7 linked regions of the Homo sapiens genome follow. The protein of the gene in region 7 purifies or fractionates together with the protein of the main gene of each other region. This does not show direct contact. Each region holds a gene or a part of one and is shown on either strand. Other genes may lie near its edges. The genes, in order: CSN2, CLPX, CAND2, PDS5A, SMC1A, APOD and ARHGAP36.

Region 1 (4,319 bases), on a different chromosome or scaffold from region 7:
GAGTCAGGTAGATATTTATTCTTACACCACTCTTCTTGGGTGTGTGATCACTTGATAAGTAAATGGTACATCAATAGATTCTGTCTCTTCAGAAAGGTTATATGATCCTTAAGGGAAGTGTTTAACTCTTATGATTCATTTGAAGTGATCATAATGTATCAATTGTTATTAGAATATATTTTCAATGAGTATTTCTTTTTTTAAAAATCAGATGGGGTTTTAGATATCATTTGTTGTCAGGGAATGAGCATGGTGGTAGAGAGAAATTAGCATCTATTAATTGCTTTTTTTTGTACCATGTCCTTCTTGACTGCATTCATCTGACTTTCTTTTACATAACAAGCTCATATAGAACAGTTTAATACATAAGTTTAATGATTATACAAAGTTATTAATGATATTATCAAAGAATTAATGCCTTTATTTCCTGATTTATATTGCAAAGTAAGAATTGTTAAAACTAAACCTAATTTTATTTTATATTTTTCTGTAGGAATCTATTACAGAATACAAGGTAAATTTTCACATTTAAAATGTACACATTTTCAAAATTTCCTCCTTTTAATCTTTACAGATGGTAACATATCTTTATATATGATATATCTTTAGCAGAAAGTTGAGAAGGTTAAACATGAGGACCAGCAGCAAGGAGAGGTAATTTGTTAATGATAAGTATATGTTTAAAATTATTATAAAGTATAATACATACAAAAATATTTATAATGTGTATGTTGATTCTAAAGAATGATAATAAAATAAATGCCATATACCCACCAACCACTTTAAAAATTAAACATTGATAAAGTCAATATATTTTCTAGGATATGCATGCATTTTTAAACTCATAATTAATTTCTAGAATACAGACTAAATACATAATGATATTACTAATGGTATATCTGTTTTCAACAAGTACACATTGGTGGGAACATTTCCAGGTTGGGAACTATGATCCTCTTATTTCCAAGGTGGATATGGTAATGAAAAGGTGTATACGGCTGGTAAAAAAACCTATGTAAAATTTGTCCCATATTGCCTTTATTCCCATATGGACAACACAAAATCCTGTATTTCATTAAATTACATTTATGGTGATATGTTTACCCAATTATAATTTTCAATTGCTTTGTGTACCAATGAATTGTTTGGAGTCACATAAAATATTTCTAAAATCAAATTTAAACAAAAAAATTGATGTCTCTTGAAAGACTCAAGAGACTATCTTCTCCCAAGGGAAGGAATGTAAGAATTTGGCCGGTGTTAAATTACTTCCTGAGATTAGCCACAAATTAAGACTGATTTTCTTTTTCATCAAACCAAAACAAAACAAAAATAAACCTTGGAATTGTCCCTCTAAGTCTTTTTAAACTGATCTCTTTTCACTGTATGAAAACAATTTGGTCTACTATTGGCACAACTGTGTTGAAAAGTAAATTCTCTCTGAAGACCAAAGTGTACAGCTACAGCTATCCAGGCAATTCAGGAAAATGTTAAAAAAAGTGTTTCTGAAATATCCAAACATTGATTTCACTTTGGCCTGTGGAGTTACCCATGAAGTGAGTGGATTAAAATTTTTCAACAAACAGTTTACTCATTTTTCTTCGCATGACTCAAGATACTTTCTTAACCAAAATAAGTGAAATATTTTCTCCTCTCTTTTTACTCATTTATCATTGTCTAAAAGAGAGAAATGAATTCATTATGAATGGCAATTATAGCTTAATCAAGGACTCAAAGATTCTTTTTCCTTCTTTCCAGGATGAACACCAGGATAAAATCTACCCCTCTTTCCAGCCACAGCCTCTGATCTATCCATTCGTTGAACCTATCCCCTATGGTTTTCTTCCACAAAACATTCTGCCTCTTGCTCAGCCTGCTGTGGTGCTGCCTGTCCCTCAGCCTGAAATAATGGAAGTCCCTAAAGCTAAAGACACTGTCTACACTAAGGGCAGAGTGATGCCTGTCCTTAAATCTCCAACGATACCCTTTTTTGACCCTCAAATCCCAAAACTCACTGATCTTGAAAATCTGCATCTTCCTCTGCCTCTGCTCCAGCCCTTGATGCAGCAGGTCCCTCAGCCTATTCCTCAGACTCTTGCACTTCCCCCTCAGCCCCTGTGGTCTGTTCCTCAGCCCAAAGTCCTGCCTATCCCCCAGCAAGTGGTGCCCTACCCTCAGAGAGCTGTGCCTGTTCAAGCCCTTCTGCTCAACCAAGAACTTCTACTTAACCCCACCCACCAGATCTACCCTGTGACTCAGCCACTTGCCCCAGTTCATAACCCCATTAGTGTAAGTCCAAATTTACTGGCTTTGCTGTTTCATTCAAGATGTGTATGTGATGGTAGAATAAAAGAATAAATGTAGAGTAAATGAATTAAAAAAACAGTTTAGATAAGTGATTCTTTTATTATTATACTTTAAGTTTTAGGGTACATGTGCACAACATGCAGGTTAGTTACATATGTATACATGTGCCATGTTGGTGTGCTGCACCCATTAACTCGTCATTTAACATTAGGTATATCTCCTAATGCTATCCCTACCCCCTACCCCCACCCCACGACAGGTCCAGGTGTGTGATGTTCCCCTTCCTGTGTCCATGTGTTCTCATAGATAAGTGATTCTTAATGCTTACCTATACAATAGAATCACCTGGAGAACTTTTCCCCACAAATCCCAATGCCTAAGCTTACCCAGAGATTCTGATATAATTGTTCTAGTTTTTTGTGTAGAGGAAACTGAGTGTTGAGAAAAAAACTATTGCATGAATTCTGGTTTAATTAGTCTGTTGAGAATTCTGATTTAGATAAAGTAATTAAGGCTTACAAAAGCCGGAATTAAATTTAATAATATGATTGAATTTGGAAAAAAAAGCTAAAAAATGTTCTGTCATTTTCCTTGTGCACATCTCTTTTACACAAGCCTTACTTCACATCTTGTTTTTGCTATAAGTATATATGAAGGCAAAAGACTGAGATGCTTATTTCACTACTTACAACATTCTTAAGGCAAGTTTTCTTACTAAGAGGTTATTTATTTATTTATTTATTTATTTATTTTACACAAGCCTTACTTCACATCTGGTTTTTGCTGTAAATATATATGAAGGCAAAAGACGGAGATGCTTATTTCACTACTTACAACATTCTTAAGGCAAGTTTTCTTACTAAGAGGTTATTTATTTATTTGTATCTGTTTATTTTTAAGGTCTAAGAAGATTTCAAAGTTAATTTTCCCTCCTTATTTTTGGTAAGTTTTGGGAGTTTGGAGATTTAATTGATCATTTTTATACATGATGTCTTTTTACATTTAATTCTCCTAGAGAAGTCCAATACAGTGAAAATTTCATACATACAAGAACTTTTTTTATTAATTATCAATTTAATGGTTGACTATCATTTACTGACCTGAAACTATCTATCTTTTGCATTTCAAATAACTTTAATTTTATTTATGTACTATTGACAGATTTGACTGGCTTGCTTTCAAGGGCCTATATACTTACATTTGATTATCACTATTTTTAGGAAAGACAGAATATATACTTATTTTACTTTTATGGAAATACATTTGAGCTTTTGTCAAAAGCCTATTTGCATTTTTATTTCTAACCTAGCCTTCATAAAATTTGTATTTACTTTACTTAAAATTATCTTTTAATTCATGAGTTAAAATTACTCCAAGTGTAAAGGTTAAAAAGAGGAGAGAACAGCATTGCAATTCTAAGATATAAAGCCTTTTGGGATTATGAAATACCAGACATTTCACTGAAACAATTTCAAGTTCACTAATATTTGATGAACTTTGGTGAAGTTTGGTGAACAAACTTTACATGCCTCCAAACCGCAACAGAATGCATTTGCAATACAATTTCTTTTGTGAATTAGTCACACCAAAGTTAAAAGTGAAGAGAGTTGAATAGTTACGTGTTATAACATAACTAATTATATATTTGCTCTCTATTCCACAGAATTGACTGAGACTGGAAATATGATGCCTTTTCCGTCTTTGTATCACGTTACCCCAAATTAAGTATGTTTGAATGAGTTTATATGGAAAAAATGAACTTTGTCCCTTTATTTATTTTATATATTATGTCATTCATTTAATTTGAAATTTGACTCATGAACTATTTACATTTTCCAAATCTTAATTCAACTAGTACCACAGAAGTTCAATACTCATTTGGAAATGCTACAAACATATCAAACATATGTATACAAATTGTTTCTGGAATTGTGCTTATTTTTATTTCTTTAAGAATCTATTTCCTTTCCAGTCATTTCAATAAATTATTCTTAAGCATATTTCAGTTCTTC
Region 2 (4,319 bases), on a different chromosome or scaffold from region 7:
AAAGTTAGCTCCTCATATATGCTGGCCATTATGTGTTTGGTTGAATAAAAGCTAGGTATAAGTAGGCCTGAGCAATTCAAACCCACTGTTCGGGAGTCAACTGCATTAACATACACAGCTCTCAAAACGCTGCGTACTGAAAACAAGCAATTTGCAAAAATATGAATATGCTATTTATACTTTAAAAAAAATCACACGTTCAATGAAGATATGTTATAGAACTTTATAGCTTCATCTATCAGGGTCTATTCTTTTCTCATAAAGGAGGATCTACATATGCATTCTTCAAGTAATTAAAAATAATTAAAATTACAAAAAAGTAGACAATTACTTAAACAGGCCATTCACAAAAGAATTACAACTGACCAAAAAGCATATAAAAAGATGTTTACAAACTAGTATCCAAATAAATGCAGACTTAAAATGCAGGCCAGGCATGGTGGCTCACACCTGTAATGCCAGCACTTTGGGAGGCCAAGGCAGGTGAATCACCTGAGGTCAGGAATTCGAGACCAGCCTGGCCAACAAGGTGAAACCCCGTCTCTACTAAAAATACAAAAATTAGCCTGGCATGGTGGTGGGCACCTGTAATCCCAGCTACTTGGGAGGCTGCGGCTGAGGCACCTGAGGCTGGCACTTGAATCCAGGTGGCAGAAGTTGCAGTGAGCCAAGATCGCGCCACTGCACTCCAGCCTGGGTGAGAACAGTGAAACTCTGCCTCAGAAAAACAATAGAAACAAAAAACAAACAAAAAAACAGGCTGAGTTATCCCTTAACCAAAATGCACGGGACCAGAAGTGTTTCAGAGTTCAAATGTTTTCACGTTTTGGAATATTCACAGAAATACACTGGTTAAGCACCCCTACATGAAATCTGAAATCTGAAATGCTCCAATGGAGCATTTCCTTTAAGCGTCATGACGCACTCAAAAGGATTTCAGAGCATTTTGAATTCCAGATTTTCAGACTACGGATGCTCAACCTGTTAGTAACCTGAGATCAAATAAAACTCTCTTTAGGACTATGAAGACCCAACTTTTAATGATCAGACACAGAAGGATTCAAAAGGATGCATTCTGAAAAGACTTTTATTATGGGTACACAAAACTAAGGGAGGAGGGGCTCACTGCACTGCTAGGGCCTACAAATAGTTAGAGGACAGGGACAGTGTCATGATCATCTGCATATTTTCTGAGCCTAGTGATGTCTGAATCAACACATTTGCTATTAATTTTGCACATAAGTGTGTGCTCTTTTTTTCATTCTTTCCTTCTACATTTTCTACTCCCATATCACCACCCACAATTAGAATTCTCAAAGCAAACAGGCCTCAGCCTTGAATTGATTACACTAAAGTAGTGTTTCCACACTTGGTCTAACTAATAATATACATATACTACTAACATACAAATTCTAGGACTCCATCCCACATCTACAGAATCTTAATCTCTAGGGAAGGAGTTTGGGAATCTCTAAGTTTAACAGTCACCTTCAGTGACTAATACAACCTGGCAAGTTTTGGAAAGAATGCATAGAAGGAAAATAAATTTAATCCCAAGAGGAGCTAGTTTACTCCTAAAGTATCTCCAGATGGTAGAAATGTATGATATAGGAATTTCTGAATAGCAAATCTTCACTGCTATGTGACCTTGAATGAGTTACTTAAACTTGCTAAATCTCAGTTTATTTATAAAAAGGAGAATACTCTTTGTTCTGGCAAAATTAAGGGTGCAAGAATAAAACTATATATGTTGGCATTTATTAAATATTAGTTTCTTTCCTTTTCTACTCTAAGAAATTATTCTTTTTTCTTTTTTTTCTTTCTTTTTTTTTTTTTGGAGACGGAGTTTCACTCTTGTTTCCCAGGCTAGAGTGCAGTGGTGTGATCTCGGCTCACTGCAGCCTCCGCTTCCTAGGTTCAAGCAATTCTCCTGCCTCGGCTTCCTGAGTAGTTGGGATTACAGGTGCCCGCCACCACGCCCAGCTAATTTTGTATTTTTAGTAGAGACGGGGTTTCACCACGTTGGCCAGGCTGGTCTTGAACGCCTCACCTCTGGTGATCTGCCTACCTCAGCCTCCCATAGTGCTGGGATTACAGGTGTAAGCCACCGCGCCTGGCAACAAATTATTCTTTAGGTCTATAAAGGTTGAAATGTTTCTTTGAAGAAAAAAAAAGGAGGAAAATTTCTTGATTAAAATATAAGACACTGACCTTATAAATTGAACAATTTTCAGCCTCTGTATAATTTTATTATATCACATCAAATTTGTTTAGAAGGTTTTATCATCCAGTTCTACCTTTTTTTTTTGAGATGGAGTTTCACTCTGTCGCCCAGGCTGGAGAAGTGCAGTGGTGTGATTTTGGCTCACCATGACCTCCACCTCCCAGGTTCAAGAGATTCTCCTGTCTCAGCCTCCCGAACAGCTGGGACTTCAGATGCACGCCACCACGCCCGGCTAATTTTTGTATTTTTAGTAGAGATGGGGTTTCACCATATTGAGCAGGCTGGTCTCAAGCTCCTGACCTCAAGTGATCAGCCCGCCTCGGCCTCCCAAAGTCCTGTGATTACTGGTGTGAGCCACAGCGCCTGGCCCACTTTCATTTTATGTTGTGATCCAAATTAAATTTTGTTCAGAACCCCTAATATTCCAGCTATGGGATGGAGCTACTTTAAGTCTTTCCAGTACATAAAAACACACTACATCTAGTACCTTTTCATATGGTGGCCAATTATGGTTAATGGTAAGTGTGAAATTGTAACCAAAGTCTCAATATTAGGGTTAGGAGATAGAGAATACTCTCTAGCCAACCATCAGACACTGAAGTCTTACAATCTTGAAGCTTTCTTCAATTGGATTGTATAGGAAGGCTGACATGGTGGTACAATTCATTACCATTAACTCTAAATTATGTTAAGTAATGAGTTTTTTGATTATTTGATTCATTAATGAAAATATCTGTAGTAGAATCTTTGCATTTCAGAGAGTTACTGACACTAACAGCAAAAGTAGGATACATGATTTTTTTCCTTCTTTTTTTCTTTTTTTGAGACAGGTTCTTGCTTTGTCGCCGAGGCTGGAATTCAATGGCTGGCTCGCTGCTGCCTCACCTCCCAGGCTCAAGCGATCCTCCTACCTCAGCCCCTAAGTAGCTGGAACTATAGCCATGCACCACCATGCCTAGCTAATTTTATTTTTTTATACATATGGGGTTTTGCCATGTTGCTCAGGCTGGTTTTGAACTTCTGGGCTCAAGCACTCTGCCTACCTCAGCCTCTGAAAGTGCTGGGATTACAGGTGTGAGTCACTGTGCCCAGCCCTGATTTCTTCCTTCTCTGAGTGTCTGAATCATTAATAATTATCAGATGCTTCCCGGAATTGAGGGCTTACCTCCTTTGGTAAGTACTAAGGGAAATTACCTTAATATATGAATGACTGGCCTTCCCAGCCATGTGAGATATTCAATATGTATTTGAAGAAAGTAGTAATAAATACAGAATAAATAAGTCTTGGTTCTCCTATAGCCTAATGATCACATCCAGAAATTCACAAAATCTAATTTGAAATAAACACAAGTAAGCAAAATAAAGAAGCAAATGTTTTTCTTAAATTATCTCTTACACAACAGTGCAAAGTATTACCAGTCCTGAAGATTTTCTAGTATATAGTGAACATAAGAGAGAATCAGGTAAGCTCATACAATTTACATATAATTTATATAACATACAAAGTCACATACATTTATCTATTTCATATAATCCATATTTCTACACATTTAATACAATTTATATATATATATTTCTTTTTTTTGAGACAGGGTCTCTGTCACCCAGGATGGGGTACAGTGGCATGACCATGGCTCACTGCAGCCTCAACCTTCTTAAAAGAAGTAGCTAAGACCACAGGTATGCACCACCATACCTGGCTTTTTTTTTTTTTTTGGAAAGACAGGTGTCTCAACATGTTGCCCAGGCAGGTCTTGAACTCCTAGGCTCAAGGGATTCTCCCATCTCCTCCTTCCAAAGTGCTAGGATTATAGGCATAAGCCGTTTGCACCTGGCCTATATTTATACATTTTACATAATTTACATATTTTTATACACTTAGTAATTTACAGAAAATGTAGGGAAAAAAGAACAGTAGAAGATGTAATACTTACATACAAAGGTCTCTACATGTGTGCACAAGTCGCCACATTTAGGACAGCGCAGCTGGTTTCCACCTTTCCCAGAATTCCCAGAGCCTGATTTCTTACTACTTCCCTCACTTGCTGATTTCTAACGTTTATGAAGGAGAAAAAAGGAAGAGTGTCAATTATTA
Region 3 (4,319 bases), on a different chromosome or scaffold from region 7:
CCTGATAGTGTGCATTTCTAGCAAGCTCCCAGTTGAGGCTGATACTGTAGGTGGTCCAGGGAGCACACTTGGAGAACCTCTGCCTTAGAGGCTTGCTTCTCAAAGTTTGGTGGTGAGTTAGCATTGGCAATGCCACTCGGGAGCTTGTTCAGGATGTGGAATCTCAGGCCTTACCCTACCCTAGATCTACTGAGCCAGGATCTGTAGCGCCACAAGGTCCCCAGGTGATTCCAATGCACAGGAAAGTGTAAAAACAGCGGCACTAGACGCCCTCGTTCTTGGCCTTAGTTGCCATCACCTGGGCCTCTAAAAAATGCCTACCTGGGCACTGCCCTCAGAGAGTCTCAGTTAATTGGTTTCAGATGTGGCCTGGAGGGGGTTGGGGGAGGGCTTTTAAAATTCCCCAGGTGATTCTAACATGCAGTCGAGGCTGACAACCTCTGCCCTACCTGAGTGGTTCTCAGACATTGGTGTGCATCAGAATGCAGATTCCAGGGTGCTATAGTCTCATCCTCTGCCCCAGCTCCCTTCCTGCTCCATCCCCTGAATCTGAATCCCTGGGCAGGGAATACAGGGTTTCAACAAGAGCTTCAGGTGACTGCAATGCACAATGGTTTTCTTTTTTCTTGATTTTTATTGAGATGAGGTCTCGCTCTGTTGCCCAGGCTGGAATACAGTGGCGTGATCATAGCCCACTGCAGCCTCAAACTCCTGGGCTCAAGCGATCCTCCTACACAGATGAGATTACATATTCAAGCCACCATGCTTGGCTAATTTCTTTTTTCAGTGTCTCGCTATGTTGCCCAGGCTGGTCTTGAACTGCTGGCCTCAAGTGATCCTCTTGCCTCAGCCTCCAGAATAGCTAGGACTACAGGCATGTGCACCATGGTTTTCAAACCTTGGTTCTCTCAACTTCCTTCTCCACAGCTCCTCTATCTACGTAATCATGGAGTCCTCCATCCTACCTCCTATAGCACTGGTTCCCACTAGGAGTAATACCACCTTGGCAATTTATGGGGGTCCTTGGTCATCAAAACTATTGAGTTAGTACTTCTGGCCTTTAAGGGGTTGAGAAGCAGGAACGGCAGAAAGACAATAATGTAAAACAAAGCACTGTCCATGCCCCGCAAGAGGTTCTAACATCCCAATGGGCATTTGTATAGGCAAAAGGCCTTTCTATAATTATCTGAGTCTAAAATTTCATTTTATACATAGACACAAAATACTTTTTTACATTGTTTTAATATACCACATTTTAGATTTTCTAAGAATGCAATTTTCAGGTAAATTGAAGGAAAATTCTACTTTGTTTTCTGGGAAACTTTATTGGGAGATGGTCACTCACTTTAGAAAATCCTGGCTGGGTGTGGTGGCTCATGCCTGTAATCCCAGCACTTTGGGAGGCCTAGGCAGGCAGATCACTTGAGGTCAGGAGTTCAAGACCAGCCTGGCCAACATGGTAAAACCCCGACTCTACTAAAAATACAAAAATTAGCCGGGTGTGGTGGTGCATGCCTGTAATGTCAGCTACTGAGGAGGCTGAGACATGGGAATCGCTTGAACCTGGGAGGGGGAGGTCACAGTGAGCTGAGATTGCACCACTGTACTCCAGCCTGAGTGACAAAGTGAGACTCTGTTTCAAAAAAAAAAAAAAGAAGAAAAAAAAAAGAAAATCTTGCCACTAAGAGCAATGGCCTCCAATTCTGAAACCTGAGTCCCCAACACCCCCTGTCTGTATCTGTACTCATGATGAGTTCACGTGTAGATGCAGGCTTCTCGTGACTTCATCACTTCTACCATCACAGTGCCCAAGCACGCATACATGGAAACACACATTACTATAAACTACATTCCTTCTAGTTTGCCTTTATGGTTATGGTTAGGGCATTATGTGTAGAGGTAGGTTTTATAATGTATGAATTTCATTTCCTAATAGGAAACGGTATTACAAACTATTTGTTATAAAAAGGTATTGGTTCTGCTGGTGTGAAACCCATCCTAAGTCTACTCCATGACCAGAAAGACATTCCCAGCTCATAAACTTGTCCATGTCACCTTCCTACATAAAACCCTTTACTGAATTCTCTCTGCTCTTGGGATCACATTGCAAATTCATTAACATGCCCCAGAAGAATGCCTGGACCCAGCTCACAGACAGTGGTTTGAGAGACAGTGCCCAATTCTCTCACCCTGTTGTCCCTTGATCCCTGGCATTCTATTTAAAATTACCCAGGTGATGCTAACCTGCAGTCAAGCTTGACAACCTCTGCCCTACACTAGTGGTTCTCAGGTGTGGGTGTGAGAATGACCCTACCACACAAGCATCCCCACGTGCTCTGCACATACCCTTGTCTTGTCTTTTTCTACTCGAGATAACTGGCCAACGTCTCAGGATCACAGCCTCACAGTGATCTAAGGCTGGGGCTTTTAGGACCTCTCCCAGTCCCATGTGCCCTAAGCCTTTTTTGTTTGTTTGTTTTTGAGATGGAATTTTTGCTCTTGTTGCCCAGGCTGGAGTGCAATGGCGCAATCTTGGCTCACTGCAATCTCTGCCTCCTGGGTTCAAGCGATTCTCCTGCCTCAGCCTCCCAAGTAGCTGTGATTACAGGCACGCACCACCATGCCCGGCAACTTTTTTTTTTTAATTATTATTTAGTAGAGACAGGGTTTCACCATGTTGGTCAGGCTGGTCTCAAACTCCTGACCTCAGGTGATCCACCTGCCTTGGCCTCTCAAAGTGCTGGGATTACAGGCATGAGCCACCGCACCCAGCCTTTAAGCCTTTACCACCTTGATGTGTGTCAGCTTGACCTTCCCAGCATTTACATCTGTCTGAGGGCTTTCTCTGGCTGGAGGTGGCAGGCAGTGGACAACCCTCCATCCTACCCCAGAAGCAGCCCTTAACCAATGACTACCAGGGAGCTGGTGGATTAATACCCCAGCTCCCTTACCCTTTGAGTGGGAAAAGTCCAAGGGACATGTCCTATACTGTGTCCCAGAGGTCCCCATGGGGTTAAGCTCATCAGGCCCACTGTGGTCACTTGCTTCGTACCATACCCTTGATTGGTCCTCTTCCCTTTCCTGCCTCACTTCCCTACTCCTCTACCATGTTTCCTGGGAGCGCCTCCCAAATAAACTTAGATTTGAATCCTTGTCTCAGCATCTTCTGGGAAAACTCAGACTAAGGTACCATTCAACGAGAGCTGCTCAGCAGGTCTCCTCTGCGAGGCTGTACCCCAAAGGGACAGCGGTCCCCAGGATGCTCCCACACAAGGTAGGGCCCCCTCTCCTGCTCCACCGAGGCTGACACTCACCACTTGACAGCCAGGTTCTGCACCTCACCGTTCTTGTCCTCCAGGAGCCGGAGCAGCATCTTCACCACCTTGCGCTCGCTGTCCTCGTCCAGCTGGATGGAGTCCTTCTGCAACTCCGACATCAGGTCGCTGGTGGCCATGAACCTGCACAGGGAGGGTGGAGGAGATTGCTGAGCAGCTCCTGGGCCCTGGTGGATTTGGGCAGTACCTCAGGGTTCCCCTAGAAGTAGACCTTAATACAAAGATTCGAGGTCAAATGCAGTCCTGTGTCACATAATGATGTTTTGGTAAGTGACAGGCAACATATACAATGGTTGTCCCATAAGATTATAATGGAGCTGGCCGGGCGCAATGGCTCACGCCTGTAATCCCAGCACTTTGGGAGGCCGAGGTGGGCAGATCACGAGGTCAGGAGATCAAGACCATCCTGGCTAACATGGTGAAACCCAGTCTCTACTAAACAAAATACAAAAAATTAGCCAGGTGTGGTGGCGGGCGCCTGTAGTCCCAGCTACTTGGGAGGCTGAAGCAGGAGAATGGCGTGAACCCGGGAGGCGGAGCTTGCAGTGAGCCAAGATCATGCCACTGTACTCCAGCCTGGGCGACAGAGAGAGACTCCGTCTCCAAAAAAAAAAAAAAAAAAGATTTTAATGGAGCTGCCCTATACAGGCATGCCATTTTAATCTTTTCTACCTTATTTTTACTGTACCTTTTCTATGTTTAGACACACAAATACCACTCTGTTACAACTGCCTACAGTACTCAATACAGGTTTGTAGCCTAGGAGCAACAGGCCACACCATATAGCCTGGGAGTGTAGTAGGCTCTACCATCTAGGTTGTGTAGGCACACTCTATGAGGTTCACACAAGGACAAAATCGCCTAAGGATGCACTTCTCAGAATGTTTCCCCGTCGTTAAGTGCCACATGATGGTGGATTATTTGGGCAGTGGGCATGGTTGGGCTACAAGGAGACCCACATATGTGTGACACCAACTGCCACAT
Region 4 (4,319 bases), on a different chromosome or scaffold from region 7:
CAGCCTAGAAGCTTGACCATCCTGGGCAATGTAGTGAGATTCTGTCTTAAAAAAGAGAGAGAATTTTGAGTTAGGAATTTGACTGTTTGCCATTGTGGCTTCTTCAAGTGTTCCTGCATTATTAGATTAAGACTGCATTTTTAGGCCGGACGTGGAGGCTAACCCCTGTAATCCCAGCATTTTGGGAGGCCAGGGCAGGCAGATAATTTGAGGTTAGGAGTTCGAGACCAGCCTGGCCAACATGGTGAAACCCCATCTCTACTAAAAATACAAAAATATTAGTTGGGCATGGTGGTGCACGCCTGTAATCCCAGCTACTAGGGAGGCTGAGGCCGGAGAATTGCTTGAACCCAGGAGGCAGATGTTGCAGTGAGCCGAGATTATCCCATTGTACTGCAGCCTGGGCAACAGAGTGAGACTTGTCTCAAAAAAAAAAAAAAAAAAAAGAAAGAAAAGAAAAAAAGACTGTCATTTTGGCAGAAATTCTATTACGATAGTGTTGTATCATGGTTACTAATCCCTTTCCTTGCTTAAGGTTTTGATGTTTGTTTACATTTCAAAATATCTGACAAAGAGTGTTTAGAGATTAGTAATTCTCAGAGGTCATCTGGGCACCTGGAAATATGGATGGGATTTCTGAGAGAAGAAAATCTGTGTTCCTGGAGAGAGAAAAGTTTAGAATAAACACAATAATGTAAATTTGGCATCTTGAATCTGCATCATTTTTGATACTTCATTTTTCAAAATAGTCTATAGTGCTTCATGTATATGCCTTAGCCTTTTTAATAAGGCCTTCATGATTTGATCTGTGTCTGTGGAATGCTCCAGCTTCCTTATGCTCCACACACATGCCTTGTGCTCCAAGCGTATACATGTTTTTCAGTTTGTTTTATGTCCCTTGCACTTTGAGATTTTCTTTCCTTGTACCAAAACTTTCTAGCTACCTGTATTTAGTACATCTTTCAATCCCTGTATTACTTATTAATCTTTCTAAACCTCTCAAATATTTTCTCTCATAAGAAGGCTTATATTTACCATTTGTACTAAATTGTTTTAAATCCTAATAAATATATTTCCCGGTATTTAAACTTTTAGGTAGATGTAGAAGAATGGTGTATATACAGCATGCAACAAGAAAGGTTGTAAAGCTGAATAATTTCCAGTATTGTTATGTAATGTGTGTTTTCATATTCATAACTTTACAGAGCTCTCAACGAAATGTGGAAGTGTCAGAACATGCTTCGGAGCCATGTACGCGAACTATTGGATTTGCACAAGCAGCCTACAGTAGGTTCATGATTTGTTTAAATTCATAGTTTATTATAGTCACTGTTCAGATTTTCTGTAGTTCTACGTAATGAAGCAGGGAAAAAGTATCTCAGTTGTTTTATTTTCCAAATGTCAGTTAAATATAATTTCTGTAGTTGTCCAAGCTAAATTTCCATTTAAAATAAATATAACAAACTCTTATTTTCTAGTGTGAGCAAAGAAATGGTGTTTTCTAGTTTATATAAAGTTTTCAGACACTAAGAGTTTATAGTTAATCAATTTTCAAATAATTAGAATTAAATTTTGAGATAAAATTACATTAAACATCATATTTCTTTTTCACTGCATGATTCATGGTCTCTCAGTGTAGAGTGAATATCAGATATCAATCCTATAAATATGCCAATGGCAAACTAAAAAAGAAATGCCATTAAATTTTTGCAAGGTTGGGGAAAAAAACTTTACATTTTTACGTGTGTTCACTAGAATAGGTGTTCTTAACCAGGGGACCATATAAACAGACCCCTCAAGGACACATGGATGCTGGAACAGGGGCGGGCAAACTTTTTTTTTTTTTTTTTTTTTTTTTTTTAATACACAGGATCTTACTCTGTTGCCCAGGCTGTCGCATAGTGGCATGATCACAGCTCACTGCAGCCTCGATGTCACTGGGCTGAGGTGATCCTCCCACCTCAGCCTTCTGAATAGCTGGGACTACGGGTGTGCTCCACCATACCCAGCTAGGTTTTGTATGTTTTTTGTAGAGGTGAGTTTTCACCATGTTTCCCAGGCTGGTCTCAAAATCTTGGGCTCATGCAGTCTGCCTGCCTAGGCCTCCCAAATTGCTAGGATTACAGGTGTGAGATACTGCACCTAGCCTAGCAAACTTTGAAAATAAATCAACAGATAGCAAAAACATATTTTGCAAGGCATAGAGTCTGTGGTCAGATATTCAACCCTGCCTTTGCAAAATTAGTCATACACGATAAATAAATGAATGGACATGACTATATTCCATCGAAACTACTAACAAAAACAGGTAGCTCATGGGGGCATAGTTTTCTAACTTTTGAACTAAATTATTCAAATTTAGTATAAATGAAAACTAATAAGTAATGTTTTATGGGATACAGGAAAGGGAAGTACGTTTTAGAAAGGAGGTTTTCCTGAAGGTATTTAAGTAACGGGCCACAAAGTAGCTAACAGAACTCTATTGCAGAAAAAAAAGTTTCTTCTCTATATTTTTAGTTAATTTTTTGTGGCATGTAGTTTCATAGTAATTCTGATATGATAAGTTTATATGTTGATTGCTTCATTGATCTTTTTTCAATCTTCTGGCAATGTAACTTTCCTGTGAAAGTTATATACTTGTGGGTTTTTAAGTACCTTCCTCCCAACATCTCCTTTCCTTCTATTTGTCTTAATAGTTGCTACTATGTAATTCTTTGTTGTTAGTTTAGCGTATATATGTGGTAAAACCATTTTCCATTGAGCAGACTGTGATGAACTTTATTTTTTAACGTCATGAAAAATGTACAGTAATGAGTATTGATTTTTGTTAGGGAAATTTGTTAACACATATGACTAGTTGTTCTTTTGTTTCTGTTTTAAATTTCAGTCAGAGGCTAACTGTTCTGCCATGTTTGGAAAACTGATGACCATAGCAAGTGAGTATGTTTATTTACTCACTAAACATGTAGTAAACGTAAATGCAGACAAAGTATTTACCCAGTGGGACTACTGATTTAATGTTAAGTAAAAGAAAATAATCTTTATCTTAATTTTGTTTCTAAGAACCAGCTAGGCTGATTTTCTTTTAGTGGCTCCGCAATATTTTGATGGCACCTGTTTTTAGCTTAGTAGAATAGTTTTTTTTTTTTCCTTCTCTAATATTGATTCTCTTTTAATTTTATAGAGAATTTGCCTGACCCCGGGAAAGCACAAGATTTTGTGAAGAAATTTAACCAGGTTCTCGGCGATGATGAGAAACTTCGGTCTCAGTTGGAGTTATTAATTAGCCCAACCTGTTCTTGCAAACAAGCAGATATTTGTGTGGTTAGTAAATCATACTTCACACTTTTTCTCTAGCTTTACTTACAGAAATATGTATTTTATTAAAGCCTGTTTTACATACAGTGATTTGTGTAAATGTAACAATATTGTGAGCTCTGAATTACTTTGGAGTATATCTATTGTCAAGTTAATTCTCTATTTACCATTCACTCTCAGCCACATTCCAGGAAAATAACTAAAGAACTAAGCCAGGGAGATTGGTCTTAGGAATTTTACAAGATAAAGTACTTTGAACTTAGTAGACATTCATTGAGTAATGATAAGTATTTTCTGAATGCTTGTGTACATGTGCATTTTCTTCTTTCATGTATTAGAATGGAAATAATCGTCAATAAATTAGTAGTAGTAACATTGCCATATATCTGGTTTCATTTACAGATAAAGTAAATTCCTATCTAGACTTTTGTCTTCATTCTTCTCTTGAACTCATTTAAAACCAATATTCTTAAAGCTATCAGGAGGGAAAACTTATGCATTCATTTATTCAGCTTTTTTTTTTTTTTTCCTGAGATAGTCTTGCTTTTGTCACCCAGGCTGGAGTTCAGTGGCACAATCATAGTTCACTACAGCGTTAAAGTCCTGTGCTCATGTGATCCTATACCCCAGCCTTCTGAATAGCTAGAACTATTGGCACACGCATCCACACCCAGCTAAGTTTTTAAATTTTTTGGAGGCCATGCACATTGGCTCACACCTGTAATCCCAGCACCTTGGGAGTCCAAGGCGTGTGGATCACCTGAGGTTGGGAGTTCGAGACCAGCCTAGCCAACTTGGTGAAACCCCATCTCTACTAAAAATACAGAAATTTGCCAGGTGTGGTGGTACATGCCTGTAATCTGAGCTACTCAAGAGGCTGAGACAGGAGAATTGCTTGAACTCGGGAGGTGGAGGTTGTAGTGAGCCGAGATCATGCCACTGCACACCAGCCTGAGTGACAGAATGAGACTGTCTCAAGAAAAGGAAAAAATAAAAATTTT
Region 5 (3,622 bases), about 78 Mb from region 7:
TAGCTGCTCCATCACCTGGTTCAGCTCCTTATTGATTTCATCAATACGCCGCTTGGCCATCTCCACCTCCTCTGTCAGCTCCCCCTCTAGCTTCTTCTGCTCTTCTAGGGACTGCCTACAAAGTGAGGGCACACAGGAGTTACTCCTGCTGGTGAGAAAATACTCCTGGCTCAGAGAGCTCTGGGGGTCCTGCATGAAGAGGGGCATGTAGGTAGGGTCACAAGAACAGGCCTGGAAGTAAGGGGGACAGATGCAGAGCTACATACTTGCTAGTGGTGATGTATTCCTCCAGTTTCTCAATCCGCTTCTGATTCTCTTCAATTTCCCGCAGCTTTTGCTTGATCTTGGCCTGGGAAACAAACATTCCATCATCAGGGGCTGCACGAGTTTACGCCAAGACCATGGGGGCTCTAGATCACACCCTTTATGTGCCCACTCATCCAAGAGCCGAACAGTCCAGGACAATCTGTCACTAATATAGGAGGCCTACTAAAAAGCAGACATAGATGGTGTTCGGTTTGATCTACTAACTAATGATGGGGGCCTCCCAGAGCTCCAGAACCTCTCATAGGTGTTCTACCCAGCCAAGGCATCTTCTTCACCAACCATGGAGGCTCAAATCAAGATAAAGCTTCACAGGCCTTTCTGTACCTGTTTCCTCATCTGCAAAATGTGGGTAATCTCCACTGCATAGAATACACATTAAGTGCTTAATATAGGGTTGTTATTAATATTAATGACTATCACATTATTTTTAAAAAATTTTTATTATTTTTTAAAATTTGAGACAGGGTCTCACTGTGTTGCTCAGGCTGATCTCAAACTCCTGGCCTCAAGTGATCCACCACGCCTGGCCAACATTCTTTTAAATATTTAAAAGTGCTTAGCAGAATGCCTGAACACTGTACACTCCTGGGACACTATGACAACTTTCTATCATTGCTGTTATTACAATATTGATATCAGGGAGGCAGTAAGTAAAGTATATTTGGTAAGAGTGTGGGCTTTAGAGCTACAATGCCCAGGGTCTGGTTCTGATACTTAATAGTTATGTGAGTGGCCGGGCACGGTGGCTCGCGCCTGTAATCCCAACACTTTGGGAGGCCAAGGCAGGCTGATCGCAGAGGCAGGCAGGAGTTTAAGACCAGCCTGGGCAACAAGCAGAAACCCTGACTCTATAAAAATTAAAAAATTAGGAGGCCGAGGCGGGCGGATCACTTGAGTTCGGAAGTTCAAGACCAGCCTGGTCAACATGGTGAAATCCCATCTCTACTAAAACTACAAAAAATTTAGCCAGGTGTGGTGGCACCCACCTGTCATCCCACCTACACGGGTGGCTGAGACACAAGAATCACTGGAACCGGGCTGGGTGCGTTGGCTCACACCTGTAATCCCAGCACTTTAGGAGGCCAAGGCGGGTGGATCACCTGAGGTCAGGAGTTCGAGACCAGCCTGACCAACAAGGTGAAACCCCGTCTCCACTAAAAATACAAAAATTAGCCGGGAATGGTGGCTGGTGCCTGTAATCTCAGCTACTTGGGGAGGCTGAGGCAGGAGAATTGCTTGAACTTGGGAGACAGAGGTTGTAGTGAGCCGAGATGGCACCATTGCACTCCAGCCTGGGCAACAAGAGAGAAACTGCGTCTCAAAAAACAATAAAAATAAAAATAAAAAAATAAAAAGAATCACTTGAACCCGACAGGCAGAGGTTGCAGTGAGCTGAGATCATGCCACTGCACTCCAGCCTGGGCAACAGAGTGAGGCTTTGTCTCAAAAAAAAAAAAAAAAAAAGTAGCCAGGCATGGTGGCAAGCACAAGTAATGCTGGATACTCAGGAGGCTCTGGTTGGAAGATTGCTTAAGCCTGGGAAGTCGAAGCTGCAGTGAGCCATGGTCGCACCACTGCACCTCAGCCTGCATGACAGAGAAAGACTCTGTCTCAAAAATAACAATAATCTTGTGACCTTAGGCAAATTACTCTGTGTTGTAATTTCCTCATTCATAAAATAGGGTAATAGTAGCCATTCCATAAAGATAATAATAAATGAAGAATTAAATGAGTGGATACATGTAAAGAACATTGCCTATCATACAGTAAGTGCTCAACAGATGTGAGCTACTGTCATTATCATTGTCATTATCATTAAGATTATCATGGCCAGGCGCAGTGGCTCAAGCCTGTAATCCCAGCACTTTGGGAGGCCGAAGTGGGTGGATCACAAGGTCAGGAGCTCGAGACCAGCCTGGCCAACGTAGTGAAACCCTGTCTCTACTAAAAATACAAAAATTAGTTGGACATGGTGGCGCACGCCTGTAGTCCCAGCTACTCAGGAGGCTGAGGCAGGAGAATTGCTTGAACCCGGGAGGCAAAGGTTGTGGTGAGCTGAGATCACATCACTGCACTCCAGCCTGGGCAAGAGCGAAACTCTGTCTCAAAAAAACAAAAAAACAAAAAAAAAGACTATCATTACAGGTTGGGTAACTCTAATCCAAAATGCTTAGGACCGGAAACGTTTCAGATTTTGGATTATTTTGGATTTGGGATGCTCAACCTATATATATCCTTTTCTGTGGACCATCATCCCTAATCTTATAACTATAGCCCACCTCTGTCTCTACTTTCTTCCGTTCTTCCAGATCCAGACGGTCCTGGTCAGCTTTCTGGTCTCGATTGAATTTCTCCAGCTCCTGGGCCAGGGTAGCTGCTCTCTTGCTGGCTTCTTCTTTCAACCGGTGGTATTTCTTCACCTGTGTTAGGGACAGGGAAGGAGAACAGGGATGACCAAGTCAGCAGATGTCAGCCCAGGGATCTCCTCCCTGCCAACCCCTTCCAGAGCTTACCTGATTCTCCTCCAACGTCAAATCTCTGCCCTGACTCTGACTCTCTTCTTCCATCCGTTCTTCAAACTCCTGCCGAGCCTTCTCCACTGACAGCATCTCCTTCTCCAGCTCATCCATGTCACCTTTACGCTTCTTGTAGTGCTTCTGAGCATTCTGCAGAGACTTCTTGGCTGCTTCCAGCTTCTTGATTTTGTGGGAGGTGTTCTCCTTGGCTTTGATGTACTGAGGCCGCTTCTGGTTCAATTCTGAGTCCTTCTCCCTTTTGCCAGAGGGGTGGGGGAAACCAGTGAGAACTATGGAAGAAGGGAGGGTTCCCAGGCTTTTCACCCAAAGGAGAGCTTGAGCCCCTGAGCCAACCTCAGGGAATTACTTAAAAGAACATGGGCGTAATGCCCCACAGATCCTGAAAAAAAGGGGCAGTCTGACTACTCCCTGAAAGGTATGACTTCAGCCTGGCATTCCAGCCACTCCATAAGGCAAAGCTACCAACTCTGCCTCAACCCTGGCCAGGAAGCTCATTAACAACTCCCAAGAACATCCTGTATTTACTTAGTTGGCCCCTCAAATTCCTATCCTTTAAACTTCTAGCTTCAGTTTCCTCTTCTAGGAAGGCCTTCTCAGCCACTCCATTGGCTCGGCCTCACATTGGTTCCTCTTTCTTGGCAAGGCCACCACCCCTTTTGAGTTCTCCCTCATCTGAGCACCTGTCTACCCAGGGCCTGAGTGCTTAAATATTCTATTTGTCTAAACTGCAAGTCAAGAAATGTGCCTGGTTCTTACAA
Region 6 (3,687 bases), on a different chromosome or scaffold from region 7:
CTAATGAGTTCAGTGATGGCCTGCGTCACTCAGCCCACCTGCACTTTAGCTCCCTTCTTGATAAAAATAACAAGAGAAACTGTGTATAAAGCCCTTTACAGTTTACAGAGCGTGTGTATCTGGTTTATTTTCACGACACTGGGCAGTTATTTCTGGCTTGTACATGTGAAGTTAGTTGTCCATATTCATAGTGTGAGAAGAACTGTTTTCTCCTCCCAGCATTCCTTTCTTGGTCTATAAAATTAGAACTTCCTCTCCTCCCCGCTCTAGGCACTTGACTGGTGTGGGGTGGAGGAGTGGCAGAGATGAGAAGTAGGAAGTGCAGGGAGTAACTTTTGTAGCTGATGACTTCAGTGTCTACCCTGCAGGTGGGAAAGGGGCTTTCAAGCACTCTTCGTGTTAGAAAGCCTCACAGTTCTGGGTTGAACTCTCTAGTGTATCTTCGTCGGAAATAAAACTAATATTTGGTGCTTTCTCTATTGCCTGTGTCCCTTCCTCAGTTAGCTCAGAACCCAGAGGCAAATGCCTGTCATTAGGTATCTCACAGGATCCCCAACAATGTGACTGGAAAGTGGCAGAAGCAGGATTCAAACTTGCCGTCACTCTTGTCATCTCTTGCTTCCTAGTTTCTGCGCCGTGCAGGTTGTTCTGCTAATATCTGCTAATGTTTCGGGCCCCAGTTTCCTTTGGGAAACAAGACTGGGTTGTGTCTTCTGCAGCCCACACCCGGTGTGCACCTACTTGTGTTTCACCTGTTGAAACGCTAGCTAGTTATAGTAAATTGCGGGGTCACGTGTCAGTATCCACACTGGGATGTGAGCTCCATAAGTACCAAGGCCAGCTCTGTCCGGCTCATCATGGCAACCCTAGTGCGTGACATGTAGTAAGTGTTTGACAGATAATTATGTGCTGAGTGATTATAGATGACACTCAGGTGTCTCAGGAATTCTCCAAGCCGGGGCGCTAGCCTTCAGTTTGCATATTTCCTGTCCCTGAATCCTCCTGGGAAAAGTGGATACTTACACCAGGAAAACTTAACTTCCAGCTTGGCAGGCTCTGTGAGGTTAACTGGGGTGGCTTCACCTTCGATTTGATTCACAGTTCCATCAGCTCTGCAGTGAGTTAAAAAAAGAAAAAATACAAAAAACGAAAAGAGAAAAGAAAAACAACTCATTGAAAGCCAATAAGCAACGAAAGGCAAGATTTGTGCCACTAAGGACCGTGGCAGCCAACACCGTGATTTCTGGTAAGAGAGGCTCTCAAAGGCAGGCTAGACCCTAGCTCCATGGCCTGGCCTTTCCCTTGTGACTGTCTCTGAGGCCAAGCAGGGGAAGAGAGCAGCGGGGTGATAAGAAGCCGCAATTGACAAGCTCCAGGATGGGACAGTATGTTAGGCCCTTGCACTTCAACACTATCTCTGACTATCTTCTATGGCCTGAAAGACCAATTCCTGCTCCCAGTCTCCAAAGAAAGGGAGAAAAGAGAATGGAAAAACAAACAAAACAACCCAACACACAAAGAAGATTCACTTTTTTTTTTTTTTGGAGATGGAGTCTTGCTCTGTCCCCCAGGCTGGAGTGCAGTGGTGCGATCTCGGCTTACTGCAACCTCTGCCTCCCCGGTTCAAGCAATTCTCCTCCCTCAGCCTCCCCAGGAGCTGAGATTACAGGCATGCACCACCACGCCTGGCTAATTTTTTGTATCTTTAGTAGAGACGGGGTTTCACCATGTTAGCCAGGCTGGTCTCAAACTCCTGACCTCAGGCAATCTACCTGCCTCAGCCTCCCAAAGTGCTGGGATTACAGGCGTGAGCCGCCGTGCCTGGCAGATTCACTTCTTTTTAAAACGAGAAGGGCCAAAGGTACAGATGAGGATGGACTTGATCACTGAAAATAATTCAAAACAAGGAGACATAAAAGCGTTCCCCTTCTTTGGGCCTCAGTGATATCATGTGACATCGCCTGTCCCATCAAGGGGCCTGAGTCCAGAGACTCCCTCTAGTTCAGCAAGCCTCTGAGTGAGTGTGGGGGATTTCAATGTAGGCCAAGTAAAAGGAGGCAGTGAAGAAACATTTACTTTATCTCAGTGATTCTCAGGTATGCCCAGATTTCAGAGACATTAAATGTGAAGAAATGCATATCTCACAATTGATGTCACCTGACAATTAGCAGTGTCATTCCTTTCTTAGTGGCATATAACGCAGTGGTGTGTCTTAAAAGCTGGGGGCTTAGATTGGATGCAATACTTTCACCTCTTTGAATGAGCCTGCTTTCTAGATGACTCCCAATGGCCCCATGAACTTGGGAGAAGGGGAAAGGTGTGGAGATGGAGGCACCAAAGGGAGGGTGCTAAGGCATCAGGGTGCTCTTCCTAGGAAGCCAACAGAGGAGAGGATGTCTGTTTATCAATCCTCAAGGCAGAGCAGGGAGGCCAACTGAAATTAGAGCAGTCGTATGTGTTAGAAAGTCAGTAGGTTGGCCGGGCGTGGTGGCTCACGCCTGTAATCCCAGCACTTTGGGAGGCCAAGGGGGGGCGGATCACAAGGTCAGGAGATCAAGACCAGCCTGGCCAACACAGTGAAACCCCGTCTCTACTAAAATACAATTAAAAAAAAAAAAGAAAGTCAGTAGGTTAATGCTATGGTTAGTGGTGACGGATGTCCTAGAAACAGGACAATGAGCAACAGGCCAGGGATTCTGGGAACTGTGCTCTGATGTTCCCAAGTACTTTCTCTGTTTATCACCATGTAAAGCTGGAGACCGTGCCCTCCTCTCTCATCTGGATCTCAGACAGCTGGGGAAGATGGTCTGTTTCTATCTGCATACGTTAACTTAGCAACAAACCAGTCTCCTCCCAGCAGATTCTGCCCTTTTCACCGTCAATTGCATTTTGCTCTAGAACGGTTTTCAGGACACCAGTCTCTGACCATGAAGTCACAACATGTTCATGGAAAAACTGCATTTGTATTTTCAAGAGTGGAAGGTGGGTAGGAAGGAGCTCTTCCTGGGGCTCTTTTTAAGTTTATAGTTGCTTTCCAAAGCGTAGCTTTTTGGATTAATTATTGTGTTAGAAGCCCTCAGTAATAGAAATGTACACTTCTAAAGGATATCCTGTTTACATAACCTAGAGTGTGAATGTTGTGTATGTGATTCTTGCTTAATAAGAAAAGGAGCTTTCTGATAGATTAAGCTGCCCAGAGATGGGATGAACTGTCCTGGAAGGCGATGAGCTCCCAGTTCCTGGAAGTGTTTGAACAAAGCTGGATGCTTCTGTCAGCAGATGGTGTCGAAGCGGCTTCTCTCCCAGACTGGAGGTCAGAAGAGATGGTCTTGATGTTCTTTGCTACCAGAGTATCTATTTTGCAGTGAGTGCAGGAACCCTGTCAGTTTGTGCCCCGCAGGTGGTCATGGAAATGCATAAGTGGATCCTAGTCCTTGCCATCCTTGCCTGCCAAACGCTTTCCTCTCAATTCCTGCTAGGAGCAGGCAGTCCCGATCCAGCAAGGTTCCCATCCTCCCTGACCCAGGCTGCCGGACACCCAGTCACTCTGCATCAGCACTCCGCAGGCCTGGCCCCGGACGCCCACAGCCACTCACCTCAACTCCTGGTTTAACACTTTGATCTTTCCGTTTTCCATTAGTGAGTAGTTGGCCTGGATGCAGCGTCCATTCTCAAAGGTTGTTGGGA
Region 7 (4,319 bases):
ACCCATATAATTGGGGCAATAAGAGGGGCTATCAGAATCCCTATCAATATGCCACCACCATGGGATGGACACACAGACACGCAGACACACACACACACACACACACACACAAACACACACACACTTCCTTGGAGCTTAAAATCGCTGTCATAAGTCTCTCTCTCTCTTTGGAGTTCAGAAAATGTGTTCCCATAACATGAAGATTATATGGGGAATTGTAAAGGTGAAAATGCTTTACTAACTCCCATTACTGTCCAATATAAACAGAGATTTGTTTGATTTCACCCTAAATATAAGAATCTGGAGGAGCAGGGCACCAAAATGTGGATTTTTGTGGGGAGAGAGATCATGGTTTCCCCATGAGAGTAAAGCCCTTGAAAATCAGGGCTTTTGTTTTTTCCATGTGGGGAGGGCAGAGAAAGACCACAGGCTTCGGAATGAGACAGCTTTGTGTTGGTATCCCAGCTCGAGCACTTACTTGCTGTGTGATCTTGGGAAGGATACTTCACCTCTCTGAGCCTCAGTTTCCTCAACTGTAAAATGGAGATGTTAACACCTGCCTAGAATTGCTCAGATGACTAAAGGAGGTAAACCATAGAAACCACCAGCCAAGTGGTTAACAGATACAGTAAATGTTTAAGAAAAGGTTAGTTAATTCCCTTCTGCACTTTTTTTCGTTCTCATGTAGCCCAGAGTGTCTCAACCATGGTGTTCAGGGAGTGGAGCCAACTGACTAAACTGCCAATTTTCCTCATTACTGGCTTGTCTGACACTCTTGAAATAGTCCCTCTTCTTTTAGGAAGATGTTTGATCAGCCTAATGCAGCCCCGGAAGAACTGGACCTTAAGTCCAATTCTCACTCTGCAGTTTCTCCTCGCAGTGTTAATGAGACCAAGGTTTCAGATGTAATACTCCACACAGGAAAGTTTCAAACTTTCTGCTCACTGTCCAGACTTCCCTCCACCCCAATTGCTGACCCAGCCCCAACCCAGTCTCCTAAATATGTGCCATTGTGCCCCAGAAAATAAAAGCATGACTATTTCCTGGCTAAGATTGCCCTATGACTCCTGTTTTGCTTTGCCCTCACTTTCACTCTAGAAATAATAGTGCCTAAGACCATCCAGTTTCTAGCAGCCACCTACGTTGAGGGGTAGATGGAATGATAGAGAAAGATATGATGGTTCTCTGAGATATGCTATGCAGCACTTAAAATACATCTCTGATTAGCTTTTATTCATATGTTCCCAATGAAAGGAAAATAAATTCTACTCTTTGCCAAAACTAGTGAAGTGGAAGAAGACCCCAATCTGAACCCCCTCCTCCCTGGTGCTTTTGCCTCCCTCTAGAGACAAAAGCAAGTCACTGCAAGCTAAAGCTGCATTTAAGCAGGGAGCGGTGGTGGAAGATCAAGAAATTGGGGGCGGGGGAGGGGTGGTGGTGGTGGATATAATCCCAGGGAGGGATAAAGAGACTACAGAGTAGAGAGGTATTGAGATTCATGGCAGGAAAAGCTCTGAGAGGTCCACCCCTAGATGTTCCCAGACTCTGGAAGGTGCCTTCAACTCCTCCCTCTCCTTCATCCCTTCTATTTATCCTGCATGCTACCTTCACTAACCCTAGATTCCTCCTTGCAAGTGAGTCCCTCTGAGGATTTAAGAATTTCGAAAAACTTCTCCAGCTCCTACCCCTGTATGCTTCTGTGGAAATCCTGGAGCCTTAGCTTTGAAAAGGGAAATGGGAGGGGTAGCAATTAGGTGTCAACCACATCAGACAGAGAATAGTTAGAGCAGGGGTTCCAGATATGCCCATGCCACTTAGTAAGTTTCCTTAATAAGCAGGGACCTACCAGCTGCTGAGTATTGAGTACTCATCCCGAGGAAGCCGCGTGGTTTCTCAGGAAGTGTATCTGAGACGTGACAGTAGCTGCCAAGGCTCATCAAACATGCCATCTACCTACTTCTGCTGATACATGTGAGAACAAATGATACTGCCGAAGGAAACAGAAATCGTTTCTTAGTGACTCAGAGCCACATCTATGAGGACACAGGTGGTGCGTTTGTATTGCATCTTTCAGTTGAAATTCCTTTTCACAGAAAGAAATTTATAGATAATCAAATAAGTCAAAGACCAGCATCTGGGTCCTGGGCAAAGTATCACCAACATCATGTTGACCACCTAGTAAATGTCTGCCATATGTCAGCATAGGAGTTTTGCAAATGTTTCTCTCTTTTAATTTCACTCAAGCTTCGAAGTCAGATCAAAAAGGATTGTAATCCCTGCTCAGCCACTGTGTGACAGTGGGCAAGTTACTAAACTTCTCTGAGATTTTGTCCTTAAAATAGAGACAATAATACTAACCTCAGAAAGTTGTTATGGTTAGAGATAGTTTATGTAGTATGACTGGTATTTACAAATAGTAAACATTTGGGAAAAAAGCTTCTTTTGATAACTGAGCCATAGAAAGCATTTAACATAATGACATCTACAACAGCAGTAATAAGAACTATTATTATTATTTACAACCCCAAAATATAGACATTATTATGTCATTTTAAGAGAGGTTAAGTAACTCTCTCACAGCAACCTTATAAGAGCTGGCCTGGGATTCAAACCAGTTGTTCCTCTTCCCACCCAGAGTTAGTGGAAATTTCATGATCATTGGGAAGATCATGGTTGGCTGGCCGGATCTAGTCATTACATTTAAACTAAAATTAGGAGAAAAAATTCTTTAAACTATGTATAGTGAAATTCTAGATCACTGTATAGATTATTTGCATATCACAGGTACTAAATTTACCCTTGTATGCCTTTTTAAATTATAACAGTAATTGAAGAACAAACTTCATAGACTTTAGAAAACATAGAGAAAAATAACTATTATCCCACCACCTTAATAGATTCTCTAACTTTATCTTATTGTCGATTTCTTTCTAGTCTTTCAAAAATGCATATTTGACAGTTACAATCATACCATTTTCTATGTTGTTACATATTCTTCACAAAAACAATTTTTATGATTCTGTGCAATCTAATAAGGGGATATATCACAGAATTTATTTAACCATTCCACTATTGTTGGACATTTAGGTTGTTGTAGTAGGTAGGTGTGAAAAAAAAGGAATGATGTTACTTTCACCATTGCCATAATCACCCTCACGGACCTGGTGCCTTGCTGTATCAGTGCTCAATGCTTTCCATCATTTGATATTTAAGCCTGATAAATGTCAGCTCTACTGCTGGAGCCTGAGATATATTTGCAAGAGTATTATTTTCTGCCAGTTTTCATCACACAGATTCTGTATTTTATCCTCACGATGGGTAAGGTATGGGCTAAGCTCTAGAGCATCACATTTTTTTTCTTTGGGAGAAATGTATTTTGAGGTACAAACAAGTAATAAAGAAAATTGGGGAAGTCCTGCCATTGGTGAATGGGGGTGCTTATCTGACGACCTGACTTGGAGAATGGGGTGTCTCATTGGTCTCATTGGCAGTCACGCCCCAGCTTTGGAAACTGATCCTGCTGCAGCACAACTAGGCCTGGCCTCAGCAAATCGATTCGGTCCCATCTCCAAGAAAAGATCAAATTTGTATGTAAAGTGCGCCCCAGGGTCCCTTCAGCTTTAGAGCTTTGGCTGCTTTACAGAAGTCCAATTGTTTGAGGCCAAATCCAATGCCAAGAGTGAACTGGGGAGAGAATTTCAAGTGGGTCAATTGTGCTGTCTCTTTCCCTGGGAAAGAAGGCCTTTCTGGGCCCTCATTCCTCCCAGACCTCAGTGATGCCTCTCCCAAGTGCCTTCCTATGGTTGCCCATTGCCCGTTGTCGCCCTGAAAAATCTCTCTGATGCAAACCAACGTGGCACATGTATACCTATGTAACAAACCTGCACGTTCTGCACATGTATCCCAGAACTTAAAGTAAATTTTTTTAAAAAAGAGTTGAACAAAAAAAAAAATAGCAAACATCAACAAAAGAGTGATGATATTCTAATGAAGACAAAATAAACCTGCCCCTCAAAAAAAAAATTGCTGTCACATGCCAGCTATCTCTTGGGCAAGGGGAATGGGGGTGAAGGAACATTTAGATACTGCCCCAGTTCTGTCCAGTCAGCTGACAGCTTCCTCCCCCAACCCCATCTCTGACTCCTGAAGACTTCTGAAGGACATTCAAAGGGAGGCACCAAAGCAATTATAGCCCTGCAGAATATCAATAGTTACCCACAAAGTTACCCTTCACATTGTACAGCATTTCTCAGGGGGAGTGCAATGAAATGAGCTGTTGCCCAGTCAAAAAACTACCCAAAGATTATTTATTTCAAAGT

The links.
Region 1: the proteins of ARHGAP36 (region 7) and CSN2 purify together in Homo sapiens (affinity purification with mass spectrometry; one large-scale study listed by BioGRID and IntAct). This does not show direct contact.
Region 2: the proteins of ARHGAP36 (region 7) and CLPX purify together in Homo sapiens (affinity purification with mass spectrometry; one large-scale study listed by BioGRID and IntAct). This does not show direct contact.
Region 3: the proteins of ARHGAP36 (region 7) and CAND2 purify together in Homo sapiens (affinity purification with mass spectrometry; one large-scale study listed by BioGRID and IntAct). This does not show direct contact.
Region 4: the proteins of ARHGAP36 (region 7) and PDS5A purify together in Homo sapiens (affinity purification with mass spectrometry; one large-scale study listed by BioGRID and IntAct). This does not show direct contact.
Region 5: the proteins of ARHGAP36 (region 7) and SMC1A purify together in Homo sapiens (affinity purification with mass spectrometry, with the first as the bait; one large-scale study listed by BioGRID). This does not show direct contact.
Region 6: the proteins of ARHGAP36 (region 7) and APOD purify together in Homo sapiens (affinity purification with mass spectrometry; 2 studies listed by BioGRID and IntAct, with this or other methods). This does not show direct contact.

The regions. Positions count from the first base shown.
Region 1 is NC_000004.12:69,955,244-69,959,562, reverse strand, and holds the end of CSN2 (beta-casein isoform 1 precursor), read left to right. Parts: intron 1-493; coding exon 494-514; intron 515-609; coding exon 610-654; intron 655-1,758; coding exon 1,759-2,289; intron 2,290-3,207; coding exon 3,208-3,213; 3' UTR 3,214-3,249; intron 3,250-3,970; 3' UTR 3,971-4,307; downstream 4,308-4,319. UniProt on the Homo sapiens protein: Important role in determination of the surface properties of the casein micelles.
Region 2 is NC_000015.10:65,174,776-65,179,094, forward strand, and holds part of CLPX (ATP-dependent clpX-like chaperone, mitochondrial precursor), read right to left. Parts: intron 4,277-4,319; coding exon 4,159-4,276; intron 1-4,158. UniProt on the Homo sapiens protein: ATP-dependent chaperone that functions as an unfoldase.
Region 3 is NC_000003.12:12,802,627-12,806,945, reverse strand, and holds part of CAND2 (cullin-associated NEDD8-dissociated protein 2), read right to left. Parts: intron 3,459-4,319; coding exon 3,315-3,458; intron 1-3,314.
Region 4 is NC_000004.12:39,897,394-39,901,712, reverse strand, and holds part of PDS5A (sister chromatid cohesion protein PDS5 homolog A), read left to right. Parts: intron 1-1,205; coding exon 1,206-1,287; intron 1,288-2,887; coding exon 2,888-2,936; intron 2,937-3,184; coding exon 3,185-3,324; coding exon of another isoform or gene 3,325-3,357; exon of another isoform or gene 3,358-3,699; intron 3,700-4,319. UniProt on the Homo sapiens protein: Probable regulator of sister chromatid cohesion in mitosis which may stabilize cohesin complex association with chromatin. May couple sister chromatid cohesion during mitosis to DNA replication.
Region 5 is NC_000023.11:53,409,155-53,412,776, forward strand, and holds part of SMC1A (structural maintenance of chromosomes protein 1A), read right to left. Parts: intron 3,100-3,622; coding exon 2,841-3,099; intron 2,748-2,840; coding exon 2,607-2,747; intron 350-2,606; coding exon 267-349; intron 116-266; coding exon 1-115. UniProt on the Homo sapiens protein: Involved in chromosome cohesion during cell cycle and in DNA repair. Central component of cohesin complex. The cohesin complex is required for the cohesion of sister chromatids after DNA replication.
Region 6 is NC_000003.12:195,570,254-195,573,940, forward strand, and holds part of APOD (apolipoprotein D precursor), read right to left. Parts: coding exon 3,597-3,687; intron 1,113-3,596; coding exon 1,024-1,112; intron 1-1,023. UniProt on the Homo sapiens protein: APOD occurs in the macromolecular complex with lecithin-cholesterol acyltransferase. It is probably involved in the transport and binding of bilin. Appears to be able to transport a variety of ligands in a number of different contexts.
Region 7 is NC_000023.11:131,060,834-131,065,152, reverse strand, and holds part of ARHGAP36 (rho GTPase-activating protein 36 isoform 1 precursor), read right to left. Parts: intron 1-4,319. UniProt on the Homo sapiens protein: GTPase activator for the Rho-type GTPases by converting them to an inactive GDP-bound state.